2 separate regions of the Homo sapiens genome follow, and region 1 is linked to region 2. The links come from fine-mapping of genetic effects on gene expression. Tissue or cell type: whole blood. Region 2 holds a variant in brackets; the other region holds the start of a gene. All regions are shown on one strand. Distances are between the middles of the regions.

Region 1 (8,151 bases), 28 kb before region 2:
AATTAAGTTCAGGATCTCCAGGTAAGATCATCCTAGATTAGGGTGGCCCCAAATCCAATGACAAGTGTCCTCATGGGAGGCACACAAAGGACAGCCATGGGAAGAGGAGAGGCTGCATGAAGATGGAGGCAGAGGCTACAGCCATGTGGCCACAGGCCAAGGAACCCCGGAGTCCCCAGGAGCTGGAGGAGGCAGGAAGGACCCTCCCCTGTGGCTCCAGAGGGAGCGTGGCCCATGAACACCTGGATTTCAGACTTCCGGCCTTCAGAACTGGGCGAAAATACATTTCTATTGTTTTAAGCACCACCCCCCAGCCCCAGTTTGTGGCAATTTGTTATAGGAAACAGCCTCAAACCCATGAGAGGAGGGGAGACAATGAGAACCCATCAATTGACAGCCTCGTGGGTGAAGCGGGGTGGGGGCTGGAGTGGTCTCAGAGTACCACGAACCTCCTATCCTTCCACGGGAGGGCACAGGCGTTCCTCCAGGACTCAGGTCAGCTTTGGCTTGAGTCTTTGCTAGCGTGGCCTCTGTGGACCCTTGCAGGGTCCTTGTGATGGCACTGTCCCCCCGCTGTAAAGCCCGTGGCCAGGAGGAAACAGGGAGACTGGGAAGGTTTGATGCCAGGATGGGGGGTTCAGATGTTTCCTGTCAGAAGCAAGCGGGATGCCCTGAGGCCACAGCTTCAGCCCCCTCCCCAGCCACCCCATCCCTCCTCCTTCCTCCAGCCCCAGCCTCCCCTCTGCCCGCTCTCACGCTCAGCCCAGAAACGCGCCCAGCCTCTCTAATGTAAACATGCTGCTGGGCACCCCGTGGCTGGTGCCCTCCTCTCTCTGTTCCCCCAGCCTTCTTGGAAGGTGGAACAGGTGCATCTGTGGCCTCTTGGTGGCTTTCCCATGGCTCCATCCTTTCCCTGTCACTTTGTCCCCTCCCTCTTTGACTTTGGTCCAGAGGACATCAACAAACATGGCTCAAGCAAAGGCTGAAAAACCTGCTGCGGTGGATCCCAGACACTCCCGTGGGAACTCACTGGGGAACATGAGACCGAGGCTGAGGGCCTAGGGATCCCGACCAGCCCACCTGCCAGCCTGGCTTGGTCAGCAGCACCACCCAGCCAGCCGTGGACTTGTGAGAAGTGATGGAGAGCTGTTGGTTGTTTTACCCGCTGAGTTTTAGGACGGTTTTGTTATGCAGCATCACTGTGGCTGCAGATACCAGATCTGCAGCCAGGCAGGCTTGGGCCCCAGTCCCCTTCCGGTCCCTGGAGACGCTCCCTGAGATGACGTGATATTTCTGGTTCTTCTCTTACAGGCCCCATTTTCTCCTCAATATCTTCTCCGCCTTGTGTTTCATGGAGCCACACTCTTGGAACTTTCCTAGTACCATACTCCTCTGTTTTCTTCATGAGCTCCTCTGCATGGGAAGGGGGGTGGGCATCCTCTTAGTTCCAGCTGCCGCTGGTGTGCTCATGACTGGTTTGACTTTTTTGTTTTGTTTTGTTTTTTTGGGACGGGGTCTTGCTGTGTTGCCCAGGCTGGAGTGCAGTGGTGCCATCACGGCGCACTGCAGCCTGGACCTCCTGGGCTCAGGTGATCCTCCCACCTCAGCCTTCTGAGTAGCTGGGACCACAGGTGTGCACCACCACGCCCAGCTCATTAATTTTTTTTATTTTTTGTAGAGGGTCTTGCTACGTGGCCCAGGCCGGCTGCCCAGTGTTTGTCTCCAGCCCAGGCCTCTCTCCTCAACTTCAGTCCTGTAGGTCCAGCTGCCTCCAGGCCACCTCCGTGTGAATGCCCCCAGCACATCCAGGTCCCCGTGTCCAAAACTACCCAACACCTTCCTGGCCAATGGCTCCTCCTCCTGCCTCCTACTTCAAAAGGTGGCACTGCCCTGCACTCTGCCACCCACACTGGAAGTCTTCAAGTCATCCTTGATTTCACTCTTGGGCCCACACCCTCCAATCCTGCTGGCCTCCCCTCCCACAGGCCACTGGAAGCCCCCTTCTCCTCTTCCTCTCCCTCCGCATTGCTCCCCCGCAAGGATGCCCTGCCCTCTTCCCTGTCCCCTCCACAGTCACCACCATTCATTCTGCCACCTGGTCACACCGTTAGTGGCTCTCACAGCAACGTCTTAATGCTCTGACCCGGCTCCTCCAAGCCCTCTAGCTTCCCCCACTCTCCACTCACCACCTTGGTGTTCCTCCCCTTTCTCCTCCACCAGCTTCCACGATACTACCACCACCTCCACTGCGGTCTCTAACAGTCGGTACTTCTGCTTCCTGCGTTAAAAATGCCCCATTCCAGGACTGTATCCTGGTGTCTGGTCTTAATCACTACCATATTTTCATTGAGTAGCAGAGGCTCCCACCTGTGAGAGGCAATTAGTAAGTGCTGAACTGGACACATGGAATCTGGACGAGGTTGGAATTATCACAGGAGAAAAATGAGGATGTGTGTGCAAAATGGTGTGGACAGAATAAAAGCCTGCAGGCAGGAGGCAGAGACAGCCTCCCCGGTTAGATTGCTAACCTCTGAGAACGGGAACTGTGCCTTATTCATCTCTGCGCAGTAAAGTTTTTTTAAATGAATGGGATGAATGAGTACAGATCAGTCAATGTGTCAGGTCTAACCTGAACTACAAAATTCATATTTAGGAGCATGGTAAGTAAGACGTTATCCAGGACTGTTGAGCTAGGTACAGAGACCACTGCCAAGGGGGCTTGCAGTGGGGAGAGAGGTCAGGCTCAACTCCCAATACAGCAAGGGCAAGTGGGTGGGGTCAGTGAATGGAAAATTAATAGGAGAAAACATCAGGGATGTGGGCGGTTCTGGCTAAACCGACCTGACAGGGTTCTTGCTGAAGAGAGGCTGGAGATATCAGACAGCACCTGGGGGACGAGGAACCTGACCAGACGTCCAGGGTGATCTGATATTGAGGCTGGGAGTTCTTGCTAAACTCACTTATCAAGGCTCTTCGCTAAAACTGGATTTTACAAGGAAGTGTACAGATGATGTAGAAGGTTCAGGAGCCTGCTTAAGTTTGGCCAAGCAAAGACTCTTTGTCACACCCCACAGAAAATGAGTCTGCCTGGCATCACCTGCACCAAGGGCGGCTTCCCTCCCCTCTGGGTGCCCCGCAAACCTAGGCTTCGCAGGAACAGTGACTCTCTGATCTGCGTGTGAATTAGAAAGACCTAGGCTTGTTAAAGCCAAGTTCTTTGGAGAGCCTCCGTTCTACAGCAGTGCAGTGCAAAAGAAATATCACAGCAGCCATGTAGGCAATTTAAAATTCTATCTTAAAAAGGTTAAAAGAAACAGGTGAAATTAATTTTAATGACATATTTTTCTTAACTCAATAGATACAAAATATTATTTCAACATGTAATCAATATGAAAACATTATCGAGATGCCTTACATTCCTTTTTCCCGTTACTTCTTTGGGATCCAGCGTGTATTTTACCTTTAGAACCCATGAGGTCCCACGTGGTGAGTGCCCCGGGTGGGAACCGCCTGCAGCTCGGGGAGGAACGAAGCTACCAGAGAACTACAGCTCCCGGCATGCTCCGGGCGCGCCCCGTGACGCACTTCCTTTGCGGTGGCCACAGCGCGCCCCCGGCGGCGGGAGCGAGGCGCCTGTCCGAGAACCACATCTCCCGGCATGCGCCAGACGCGCCCGTGACGCACTTCCGGTGCGGCCGCGACGGCGCGCCCCCGGCGGCTGCTGCGGCGGCGGGAGCGAGGCGACCGCTGAGGCCGCGGAGAGTGACGGCGGCCCGGCCGACGGGAGCCGGGGCGGGGCGGCGGCCCAGCGAAGGAGCGCGCGGGCGGTCTGGCCCCGCCCCCTCCCCGCCCGCCTTCCCGGTGACCTTCAGGGGCCCGGGTGGCGGGCGCAGGCCCCTGCGGCGGCGGCGGGATGTTCGTGCAGGAGGAGAAGATCTTCGCGGGCAAGGTGCTGCGGCTGCACATCTGCGCGTCCGACGGCGCCGAGTGGCTGGAGGAGGCCACCGAGGACACCTCGGTGGAGAAGCTCAAGGAGCGCTGCCTCAAGCACGTAAGGCCGGGCCCCCTCCCCTGCCCCCAACACCCGCTCCGGACCCCTCCGACTGCGGACCCCGCCTCAGTCCCCGAACCGCCCCGACCTGGGGTCCGCCGCCCAGTCCGCAGCTCCCAGGCCCTCTCCTCCGGGGGTGGAGGCAGCGCCTCCTGCCCGTTTGCCCGACTCTCCCCCTTTCGGATCCCACACCTCTGGACGCTCGTCCCGGGCCTGGCCTTTCGGCCGGCGGACTCCGGTCACTAAGCGCTCGCCCCGTGCCAGCCGCCCGGCCGAGCCCTGTACACGCCAGCCTCTCAGTTAACTCTGCAGCCACGCAGGGAGGTAGGGGCAGATCGGGAAACTGAGGCCTGGAGAGTGAAGTCGCCGACGGAGCAGGGCCTCGGGACTTTCCGGCAGTTGTACCTTTTTGCTGTTGGGGTGAGGTTTTTTTTCAGCAGCATCTTTGAGAGCTGAGAATTAACGTAGGCTCCTTCATGAAGAGGCCCCTTCTCCTTCCTCTTCCCCTTTCCCGCAGAGCCGGCTGCTTGGAGCTCTTTTCCTGGCTGGCCCCAGGCCACTGTGCCTTTTAGCTGGAGTCCCTGAAATAGTGCCGCTGCGGGACAAGGCCCTGCGCCCCTGCTTTTCTGCAGAGGTAAAATTGGTCAAGAGAGAAGTCCCAGGAGTAGGGTCTCCTCGCGGAGACACTTTTTAAAGTTTATTCACCTGAAATACTCCTGTGTATTTAGTTCCTTAGGTTGCTGATTTTTGGAACTAGTTCTCGAGTCTCTAAAGGACTCAGTAAGGTCAGCTAAGAAGCCTGTCTGTGTGTCAGACTGACCTCCTGTCTATACCTGACATGATCTGAGGGCTTGGCAGAATTTAGGTTGAAGGAGGCTGCAATTTTCTAGTGGCGACTCCATGTGATAAGTTACGACGTATCTGTGTTGACAGGTTGAGTGCGTTACACTTGAGCTGAGTGTGGTCTCTAAGGATAAACTTCAGTTCTTACCATAGTAGCTGCTCGCATACAGTACTTTCGAGTTGCTTTTGTGAGCATGGTTCTGTGGAGTTCTGGAACTGTCAGAGGCAAGCTTGGCAAGCCCCCTTCTGGAACGCACTGGCTGTGAATAACTGGGAGGTGCTGGCCTCAGGATTCACACCAAGGAGGGGGCTGAGCCTCCTGCGTTCAAGGGCCGGTATGTTTTGGCTGCTTTCTTGCTTTTCTTCTGCCCCAGTCTGCATGATTTTGCCGTCTGAACAACCATCGGGGCATCACTAAGCTCCAGCGCCGGTAACTCCGTGGGCATCCAGGCTGTTTGAGCCAGGTGGTGTTGCTTGTCTAGTTGTGTGTATTTTAAAAAACTTCTCTGGGCCGGGCACGGTAACTCACACTTGTAATCCCAGCACTTTGGGAGGCCGAGGTGGGCGGATTATGAGGTCAGGAGATTGAGGCCATCTTGGCCAACATGGTGAAACCCCGTCTCAACTAAAATACAAAAAATTAGCGGGGCGTGGTGGTGTGTGCCTGTAATCCCAGCTACTTGGGAGGCTGAGGCAGGGTAATCGCTTGAACCCGGGAGGCGGAGGTTGCAGTGAGATGAGATCGCGCCACTGCACTCCAGCCTGGCGACAGAGCAAGACTCCGTCTCAAAAAAAAAAAAAAAAAAAAACCAGACAAAAAACCCTAGAAACTTCTCTGAGGTGCTGCTGTGTCCTCCCTGAGCCAGTACAGAAGCTCCTCAGGGGTTCGGTTTATATCCACAAGTCCAGGGCCGGGCTTAGAGTGGCACCAAAACAAACTTGTGGGTTAATGGAATAGACAAAAATATCCTGTGGACCCCACACTGCATCGACATGGGATGTCCCCTGCGTTGGCACGGCATTTACTTTAACTCACTCGGTGCGATGTGCATGGCCATCATGATACTCTTTTATGAAAGGAAATAGGAAATGAGAGCTGTTTGATCCACAGATACCTACTCATGAATTTCAGGAGCACGGAGGGTCAGTTAGGCAGCCAGTTCCGATGCAATGCTAATTATTATACTCCTGATATATATTATTCCATTTGGTGTTGAGATGTATCATTTGGGATGTTTTGTCATTATTCTACTTTAAATTGAGATTGTATCCCACTCTGCGGTTTCCACAGGTGTGGAGGATCTGAGTAGCAGGGGATTTTCACACCGCAAGAGCCGACATACATTTCAGGACTCCAGAGCTGAGCGTCAGAAAGGTTCCCCACCACCACATCCCAGCGTGGTTCTGCAGGCAGGGCCAGAATGCGTTAGTCAGAAAAGAGAACCCTCGAGTTGTGTATTTGAATGTCTCTCTGGAAGCCGGTCCCTGGATGTCATCCTGCTGTAGGCAGTGAGGTCTGGTGTCTGTTTTAGCTTTGTTCCTCCTCGCCAGGTCCCCAGTGCGTGCTGACGCCGGCATGATTTTTTCCTTCCTCTTTTCCATCTGCCTGGAGGGGAATGATGTCGGCTTCTCCCTGCTGTGCTCCTGGGTGTGCACTCCTGAATCAAGGAGGGGTTTTATGATCAAAACTCTTGCTTTTGCCTTTCCCTTTTCTGTTTTGTGCAAATTGGGATCACCGTGGTGGCCTCTAGCTTCCATTGCCCTGGAGTGGAGAAGGGGGCAGAGGAACCTGTCTTGTACAACAGGTAGTTAATGAGTTTTAGAAAATTATACCTGGCTGAGCACGGTGGCTCATGCCTGTAATCCCAGTACTTTGGGAGGCCAAGACAGGCAGATCACAAGGTCAGGAGATCGAGACCATTCTGGCTAACACAGTGAAACCCCATCTTTACTAAAAATACAGAAAAATTAGCCGGGCGTGGTGGCGGGCACCTGTAGTCCCAGCTACTCGGGAGGCTGAGACAGGAGAATGGTGTGAACCTGGGAGGTGGGACTTGCAGTGAGCCGAGATCAAGCCACTGCACTCCAGCCTGGGCGACGGAGAGAGACTCCGTCTCAAAAAAAAAAAAAAAGAAAATTATACCTGTGGTGCAGTAGAGTTTTTGGTGTGTCGTAAACATTCATGAAATTCCAGCCTGGCCAACATGGCAATACCCCTTCTGTACTAAAAATGTAAAAAAATAGCCTGGCATGGTCGCGGACTCCTGTAATCCCACCTACTCAGGAGGCTGAGGCACAAGAATCGCTTGAACCTGGGAAGCGGAGGTTGCAATAAGCGGAGATCGCGCCACTGCACTCCAGCCTGGGTGACAGAATGAGACCCTGTCTTTAAAAAAAAAAAAAAAAAAAGAAGGAGTTCATAAAATTGCCAGACTAGAAGAGAGTACCCGCTAGTATAGCTGTTAAATTTTCCATTTCCTAGATCGCATGAAGATGGGTCCTCAGATGGCAGGTTGCATCAGGTACAAGCAGAAACGAAGTCACTACTCTTCTGGGGAGGAGCAGGATGGAGTGGGGTGGGGGTGTGAGGGCCTCCCTACTCCAGCGGCCTTGGTTGGGGCTTTTTTGCTGCCATACCCCAGCTTCTGCCGAGAACAAAGAAGCAGAGTGACACGGTCGTCCTAGTGCTTCCGTGTTGTTCCTGGTGTGCTGGTGACACGTGGACTGTGGGTTTTTTGGGAATCAGTATGAGAATTATTTTGGAAAACTGCATTTCGTAGTCTGTATTCTGAACTTGACAAATGAACTAGCCTGCAAACTTTAGGATCATGAGGAAGCACCCCCAGTATTTCAGGGAGCAGAGCCATTGTCAAATCCAGAGGCACTTGAGGGTTCTCTGCCCTGTTGTAAATGGCAGGAGTGTGTCTTCCTAGTAGCTGCGTCCCCCCAACATCCCCTCAGCCTGGCCAGTTTTGTGTGAAGGAGTGAGCCCCTGAAGCCGTCAATCCCTTTTTCAAAACCGTTTTCAGTCTTGAGAGTAACAGAAATTCCAGTTACTCTGAAAATGCCAGTGTTGAGAGGTGAAGTGTGTGCTTAGATTTTCTTTCCCAGCAAGCAGTTGTGTGTGCTGGGTGTTTCAGAGCCTCTGTGGCAGCAAAGGGTGGTGGAAAGTGAGCTGCCAGCAGGGCGTCTGCCCGGCCACCTGAGACGTCCGAGGACGGCCTGTCCTGGGGTGGTGCCCCGGCCCAGCTCCAGGC
Region 2 (8,179 bases):
TTTCACCATGTTTGCCAGGCTGGTCTCGAACTCCTGACCTCGTGATCCACCTGCCTCAGCCTCCCTAAGTGCTGGGATTACAGACCTGTTGGTCCCCAGGAGCTGAGTTCCTGGATGTTGGGAGGGCCTTTGCCACCCGAGCAGGCTGGAAGTGTCTCTGGAGCTGCGATGGCCGTGCCCTGATCTTGAAGGCTGGCCTTCTTTCAGAAGCGTATTGGCCGCCTGTAGAACCTTGGCTGTGAGAGACCTTCCGCTCAGCGTTTGGCCTGCTTTTCTCTTGGATTGTTTTCTTATTCATTCAGAAAGGTCCTCACCTCCTGGATGCTGACCCTTTTCCCATTATTTGTGTTGCAGATGCCGTTGTTCAGTTTCTGGTTTATTTCCTCACACTGATGGGCAGAATCCCGTGTTTTGATGTCCTTCAGTGTGTCTGTATTTTTTTTAAGATGTGAACCTTTAAAGAAAACCCTCCATGGCTGGGCGTGGTGGCTCACGCCTGTAATCCCAGCACTTTGGGAGGCTGAGGCAGGTGGATCACGAGGTCAGGAGTTCAAGACCAGCCTGGCCAAGATGGTGAAACGCTGTCTTTACTAAAAATACAAAAAATTAGTTGGGCATGGTGGTATGCACCTGTAATCCCAGCTACTCTGGAGCTGAGGCAGAGAATTGCTTAAACCTGGGGGGCGGAGGTTGCAGTGAGCCGAGATCGTGCCACTGCACTCTAGCCTGGGCGTCAGAGCAAGACTCCACCTCAAAAAAAAAAAAAAGAAAAAGGAAAACCCTCCTATCCGAAAGTCAGAAACACGTTTTCCTTTTATTTTTTTTTCCAAAAATGTTAAAAGTTTCTCTTAATTTAAGTCCATAATCTACCTAGAAGTATGTGTGTGGTGTGAGGTAGGGATCTTCTTTGTACCCAAATTCTAAAACTTGAGAATGGTCTTTTGTGAGTTTATTTTTATTCTTAGTGATTCCTTTCACACTGAAAGCATATTCCTCCTAGCTCTCCAGCTGTTTGTATACCTTAGGATGTTAGTGTGTGCTGCCTTGGGGTCTGTCCAATAACTTTTTCTTTTTTTTTTCCTAATAGAAATAGGCTCTTTCTCTGTCACCCAGGCTAGAGTGCAGTGATGGCGCCACTGTCCATGCAAGATCTGCCCCCAGCACACACACTTGCCCACCTCCATATTATAGACAAGACCTTCATTGTTTTAACTTGTATTCCTCTTTTTTTTTTTTTTTTTGAGATGGAATCTCGCTCTGTCACCCAGGCTGGAGTGCAGTGGCACGATCTCAGCTCACTGCAAGCTCCGCCTACCGGGTTCACGCCATTCTCCTGCCTCAGCCTCCTGAGTAGCTGGGACTACAGGTGCCCGCCACCGTGCCCGGCTAATTTTTTGTATTTTTAGTAGAGACAGGGTTTCACCGTGTTAGCCAGGATGGTCTTGATCTCCTGACCTCGTGATCCGCCCGTCTCGGCCTCCCAAAGTGCTGGGATTACAGGCTTGAGCTACTGCGCCTGGCCACTTGCATTCCTTTTGGTTATTAGCAATGTTGAATACTTTTCTGTTGGCCATTGCATTTCTTCTTTTACATACTGTCTATGCGTGTCATCTATTTGTTTTCCTTCTTTTTATGGAGACAGGGTCTTGATCTGTCACCCAGGCTGGAGTGCAGTGGTACAATCACAGCTTACTGCAGCCTTGACCTCCTGGGCTCAAGTCATCCTCATGGGTAGTTATGACTACAGGCATGCACGACCATGCCCAGCTATTTTTTTTGTTGTTGTTGAGATGGGGTCTCGTTTTTTTGCTCAGGCTAGTCTTGAACTCCTGGCTTCAAGCGCTCCCCCCACCTCTGCCTTCTAGAGTGCTGGGATTGTAGGCGAGAGCCATTGTGCCTGGCACATGTGTTTTTCAATTGCAATATTAATCCTAGAGCTTCCTTAATAGCTTCTTGGATATTAGGCACATCTTCCTTTGTTGAATGTTGTAAACTGTTTTTGCTCTCTAATTTTGTGTGGCATTTTCTGACATACAGAAGTTAGGATATACAGAAGACAGTCCTTCCTCAGGTTGGGCATGGTGGCTCATGCCTGTAATTGTAGCACTTTGGGAGGTTGAGGCAAGAGGATCACTTGAGCTCAGGAGTTCGAGACCAGCCTGGGTAACATAGCAGGACCTCCTCTCTACTAAAAAAGCAAACAAACAAAAAAACAAAATCAGCCAGGAGTGGTGGCACACGTACCTGTAGTCCCTGCTACTCAGGGGACTGAGGTGGGAGGATCATTGAGTCTGGGAGTTCAAGGCTGCAGTGAGCCATGATCACTCCACTGCACTCCAGCCTGGGCAACAAAGCAAGTCGCTGTCTCAAAAAAAAATTAAATTCAAAAAGGAAAGTCCTTCCTCAGATAAATAATCATCTGTGTGGTTTTTCATATTTAACTCTTTATCTTTTTGTTCAACTCTTTCATCCTTCCAGAATTTATTTTGCTGTTTATTGAGAGGAAATGGGAAATTAAGTTCCCCGCCCTGTGTGTGAAACAGCTGTTTCGCACCTTATAGTTTGTTCTTTCTGAGTCTTTTTCTGGGATTTTTATTTTTATTTTTTGAGACGGAGTCTCACTCTGCTGCCCAGGCTGGAGTGCAGTGGCGCAATCTCGGCTCACTGCCAGCTCCGCCTCCCTGGTTCATGCTATTCTCCTGCCTCAGCCTTCCGAGTAGCTGGGATTATAGGCGCCTGCCACCACGCCCAGCTAATTTTTTATATTTTTAGTAGAGACAGGGTTTTACCGTATTAGCCAGGATGGTCTCGATCTCCTGACCTCATGATCCGCCTGCTTCGGCCTCCCAAAGTGTTGGAATTACAGGCATGAGCCACCGTGCCTGGCTTTTTCTGAGATTTTAAAGTGGTTTTTGGAGACTTTTAATCAGAACACCAGAGGATTGTTTTAAGGCCTGGGGATTGTCCAATCATGAACAGAGCCAAGTTGGGTTCACTCTGAGCTCTGTGCTCAGCCATGGGCTACTGGGCCGTGAATGGCTGTGAATTCTGTAGTGAGCACTGTCCCTGGAGCCTGTAGACCTGGGGCCACTTATGCTGAAGTGCGTCCATGTGTGTCAGGTCAGCATGGAGCCATCGATCCTGGCAGAGGGGCTGGCAGAACGCGTGCTCCTTCACAGTGGGTGGAACAGAGAGCTTTTTGCTAAAAGCCACCTGTTTTGGGGAAACAGTTTTGTAAAGCTGTTAAAACCCAAGTTTTCATTTTGAAGAAGTGCTGTGTTGCATTTTTAATGTGCTGGTTTTTTGAAGAAGGAATTTTCTGAAGGCTGAGCATTACGTTTTTCCAGTTTGTTGTTAACTTTGCAACAGTGTCTGTGTGTGTCCTTTCTGCATCTGCTGACCTTCTCGGGGTGGGATTGGAAGTGGAGTTGTTGGGGAAGATGATTTTTGAGCCCTGGCGGCTGCCAGACAGCTGCCGAGAGTGGGGGTGCCATGAGCACGCACAGGCACACTGCCCACCTGCCAGAATTGAGTGCATGACTCTCTGTGATCAGATCTGATTTGATGGGTGCATCCGATGGAGTTGGGTGGGTTTCAGCCTGAGAGTGCACACTTAGCAGTGAGCTCTGTGTGGCCTTTGTATTGGAGACGCACCCTCTTCATTAGGAAGCTGCCGAAGAGGAAAGTCACGCCTGTGCCTGTGGGCTGAGTGGGGGCGTGGGCACTCAGGCTGGCTCTGTTTTCCCTGCAGCATTTGAAGACATGCTGGAGAACCCACTGAACAGCACCCAGTGGATGAATGATCCAGAAACGGGGCCTGTCATGCTGCAGATCTCTAGAATCTTCCAGACACTAAATCGCACGTAGGTGGCGTTGTTCCACTCGGCTATCAGGCCACAGCAGCCCCCTGGTGCGGCCCGAGACCGGGCAGAGTGGACCTCACCTGGAAACTCACCTTCAGCGCCTCAGCCCTGGACTGTTAGAGGTGCTGCAGCTGCTCCTGCTCTCTGATCTTATTGCTTATAAACTTTGGTGACGGTAGTGTGTAAGGCCGTATTTTTAGCATCTGACAGGTGTTTACAAAAAAGTGGTTGTCGCACTGGGAAGTGGAGTGATGGCCTCGTCTCCAGTGCTCCTCTGGGCTCTTGAGTTGCTGCTTGAATTGCCGTGTAGACATTTGCTTGGAGAGTCCACTTGTTATTTGACGGAGGTA[G/A]GTTTCAACCCAGAGTTAATGTCAAGCATGCTAATTTAACTAGTCACTCACAGATGACTTTTCTTTAATAAAGTCCCTTTTCCTATTTCCTGTCTTCGTCTTTTCTTGGTGCCGCACAAGAAACCCGTGCGTCCCCGAGAGGCCACATCCCCGCGGCTCCGTGCCGGCTGCTCTGACCCGGGGCGGGCACCGGGGCCACCGCAGCATGTGGGAGGCCTTGTGGCCATGTTTGGTTGGCAAAGCCTCGTGTTGTATTGGGTTTAAGGGACTGGAGCTGAGCCCGTATTCCTGGGACACAGGTCCTGAGCCCAAGCACGGCTGCCTCCGCCTACCTCTGGCCTCTTCCTCCTTTTTTTTCATTTTAAAAAACATGACCGGTGTCTTAAAATGAGAAAATGAATTTATTTTGTTTTTTGTGAACTCTGCTCATTATTGTTGCTGGAAGCAGTCAGTTCCGAGCTGTTTGTTTTGAACTTCTCTTCTGAACCAGCCCCCTCCCCTTCTGAACTCTGCTTGCATTGTAGCTGAGTAAGAATGTTTTCGGAAAATGTTTCTCTCCACACATCTAGGTCTTTTCATTGTTTTTGAGATTTAGATTTAAAACTAAAGTTAATTTAAACTCTTTGGGCAGAAATATTAAAAATGCTTTTCAAAAGTAATGAATCTCGGCCGGGCGCGGTGGCTCACACCTGTAATCCCAGCACTTTGGGGGACCGAGGCAGGCGGATCACGAGGTCAGGAGATCAAGATCATCCTGGCTAACACGGTGAAACCCCGTCTCTACTAAAAATACAAAAAATTAGCCGGGTGTGGTGGCGGGTGCCTGTAGTCCCAGCTACTTGGGAGACTGAGGCAGGAGAACGGTGTGAATTCGGGAGGCGGAGCTTGCAGTGAGCCAAGATCGCGCCACTGCACTCCAGCCTGGGCGACAGAGCAAGACTCCGTCTCAAAAAAAAAAAAAAAAGTAGCGAATCTCACTTCTTTTTGAGACGGAGTCTCAAAAAAAAAAAAGATGCCTGTCTACTACCCTGCTGCCAGGCCACAGGCCCTCGGCCCGCCCCACGTCAGCAGGGTCTAGCCAGCCACAGTGCCCTCCTTGCCCGCCATCCTCTTTTGGCAAACTTGTGAGTCGGAAGAGAATGTTCTCCTCAGCGAGTTTAAGAGTCAAAGTTGGGAAATTCCTTCCGAGGAACCTCTGGACAGGTGTGTCCTCAGCCCGCCTCCTGCGGGCTGTGGAGCCGTGCTTTCCACGGGTTCGCTGGCTGCCTGGCTCATCTTGCTGTGGCCTGAGCGTCCACAAGGTGGGCGAGGGGCCACACCAACACCTGCCTGATGTGGCCATGAGGAGGGAAGTGTGTGCCAGTGCCTTTCCTCGGAGATGCTGCGTTCGCTCCCGTTGGCTGGTCCTGCACATGCAGCTTCTCCAGGTGCGCCTCCTCCGCTAGCCCCGTGTTCTGCCGCGCCCGCCTTTCAGTCCCCAGAGGCCCTGAGGTCGGGAATGCGCGTTCTCACCCAGCCCTGTCCTCTGGTGAGCGTGGATCCACGTTTTAACCTGGTCGCGGTTTGCATGCAGTTGTGGAGTTCTGGGTGAGTAAACACCACGTGCCGCCGAGGCCTTCCCAGGGGCTGCGGGCCGTCCGTAGATGGGTTCTGGAGCACGTCGCAGCTGCCCTGGTGAATGTGGTTTCTGCTCCTGCAGCGGCTGCTGGGGAGGTGGGGAGTGCTCTGGGCCTGGTTGCAGTCCTGCCGCTTCTCTGGGCCAGGCCATCAGCGCACACATGGGCGAGGCACCATCCCTGTGAACACAGCCTGTGTCTGGCACGCGTATTTTAGGGCTGAGGTTGTATCTTACAAGGTGAAATGAAATGGCCGGCAAACTCTAGAAATTCTTCGTTTACGTGGACTTCAGTTCCATGACCAGTAACGCTGCTGTCCATGTGTGCCTTCGCCACAGTGGCCCATGAACTAGGGGCAGGCAGCTGGCCGAGCCTGGCCCTGAGCGCAGTTGTGTTCCAGCTGCTGAGGGCCAAGTGGCTTCTCAGCCCATGGGGCCAGGCTGCCTGGCTCTGGGGGGCGTGGGTGCTGGGTCGGGGACGCTGGGTCGTACACAGATGTTCCGGTGCACATTGCTCTGTTGAGATAAGGGCCACCTGTGTCATTTTGAGCTTCTGCTAAGCCGTTTTTCTTCTTCCGGGGTCCTGTGGAGCAGGACCCCTGGGCAGTGCCCTGTGGCCATACTCAGGGCTCTAGACCAGGGTGTGATGCCGAGGCAGGTCACCTGTGTGCCAGGGAAGGTGGAGGGAGTTAGATGGCTCACTTGGCCAGCATTCCCTCCTGCTCCGGTGGCCGAGCTTGGCGATGACACATGCGTTTCCTCGTGGAGTGGGATCATGCTGAGATTCCAGGACAGCGTGGCTCAGCTGCTGGAGGGGTGACTTCCCCTGAGATCGTGGGGTCAGGACATTGCTGTGCCGACTGTAGGCGCCGTCCACACAAGCAGGGGATTCCTCCCCCCAGGTGCAGAGAGAGGTGGCCCAGCCACTTGGGCCACTACAGCGAGCTGGCATGGCGGTGGGACCCCGGGTGAGGAGTCTGAAGGCAGGGGTGGGGCTCACTGTCAGCTGGTGGGGACTGGGGGGCTCCGGGAGGTACTGGATGTGGGAGAGGCTGGGGGTCCACCAGCCTGCATCCTTCTCGAGGTCAGGGCCCTGCTCCGTCCCGTTTCAGGGCTGGCTGGTTGTGGAGGCACTTGGAAAACACTCGCTGGAACAGGCGGGTGGGAGGTGGGGCTGGGACAGGGAGCATGGGAGCCAGAGACCGCAGGAGCCTGAATCCCAGAGGACATTCCTGCTGGGGGTGTGGGGACAGCACCATCGGGGGCCTCAGTGCATCCGGGGAGCAGGTGGGGCCTGCCTGGGTCAGCCTCAGCCCAGCTGTGGGGTTCGCCCCCGTGCCCTTCGCTGCCCTTGGAGGCATGCTTGGTCCCACGGGAAGGCAGGAGGATGAGCTGCCATTTGCAGGGTGTGGGGTGGGCAGAGCATTCATGCGCTGGGCACAGCCTCAGCCAGAGGAAGGGCATTGTTGGCGTTCTGGGCCCAGCACAGGCTGGAGAGAAGGAACCCTCATGTGCAGATGTGGCCGAGCCTCCTAACCATGAGAGCACCGCCCAGAGACAGCATGTGCCCAGGGGTGCCCCCGCCCACCCAGGGGCTCTCTCTCGGGTTAGGGCCGGGAGTCGGGTGTGGCACCTGCAAGCAGCTTTCTGTGCCCAGTGGAGGCTTGGAAGGCACAGCTGCCTCCAGGTGAGGATGCCTGGTGCCTGGCTGGGGACTGACTCCCAGGCAGAGAACACAGCCATGTGGCTCTGGGGGACAAGGGTTTGGATGCTGCAGACTGGGCAGGGCTGGGGGCGGGGGTCTGAGGCAGTTAGTGGCTCTTCGACGTTCTCTCAGAGCTCGCTCTGGTTTCCCGCCTGACGGTCTCCCCTTGAACAGCTGCACTTAAGTGAGGTCCACCCTTGCCCCACTCCCAGGCGGGCTCACTGGCTTGGCACACGAGGGAGTCTGAGGGAGCCCCCTGTGGGGTGGTGCCTGCATTCTGGGCTCCCAAGAGCTGGCTTCCTGCAGGGGAACCTGCCAGTGCACCCCCGGCACTTTCCTGGGATCGAGTCTCCGCCAGGGATGTCTCCTGGCTTGGTCCTCAAGGGTCTGCCAGCCTCATACCCCGCAGGGCACGGTGGGCTCTCCAAGGCCAGGCAGGGCCTTTTTGACGGGTTCAGCCTAAGCCCAGGGCTGGCAGGGCCAGGGCCTGCGGTTGGGCTGCTCATCACCCAGCAGTCGCCGGGGAGCATGGCTGAGTGCCCTGTCCCCAACTGTCACTGCCCACATAACTGGGGGTGGGCCCAGGGCTTTCTTTGGCCAGCAGGTGCCCCACTCTCTTCTCCACATTCCCAAGAGGGGCTCCCTT

Evidence for each region. PIP is the estimated chance that this variant, and not a neighbour inherited with it, causes the effect.
Region 1: it holds the start of UBAC1, and the variant in region 2 is fine-mapped to the expression of UBAC1 in whole blood (TOPMed, PIP above 0.99).

Annotation. Positions count from the first base shown.
Region 1 is chr9:135,956,925-135,965,075 of GRCh38, reverse strand. It overlaps UBAC1 (UBA domain containing 1), which reads left to right and starts at 3,703. Exons shown (of 10, transcript NM_016172.3): 1 at 3,703-4,051. The coding sequence starts at 3,914. RefSeq lists silencers at 3,554-3,963, 3,974-4,093 and an enhancer at 3,583-4,083.
Region 2 is chr9:135,929,088-135,937,266 of GRCh38, reverse strand. UBAC1 (UBA domain containing 1) reads left to right here. Exons shown (of 10, transcript NM_016172.3): 10 at 3,752-4,298. The coding sequence ends at 3,867. Among named protein-coding and RNA genes, the nearest start is that of CAMSAP1-DT, 25 kb to the right of the region's middle. RefSeq lists an enhancer at 5,057-5,556. The variant G/A (reference allele first, on the strand shown) is at 4,214.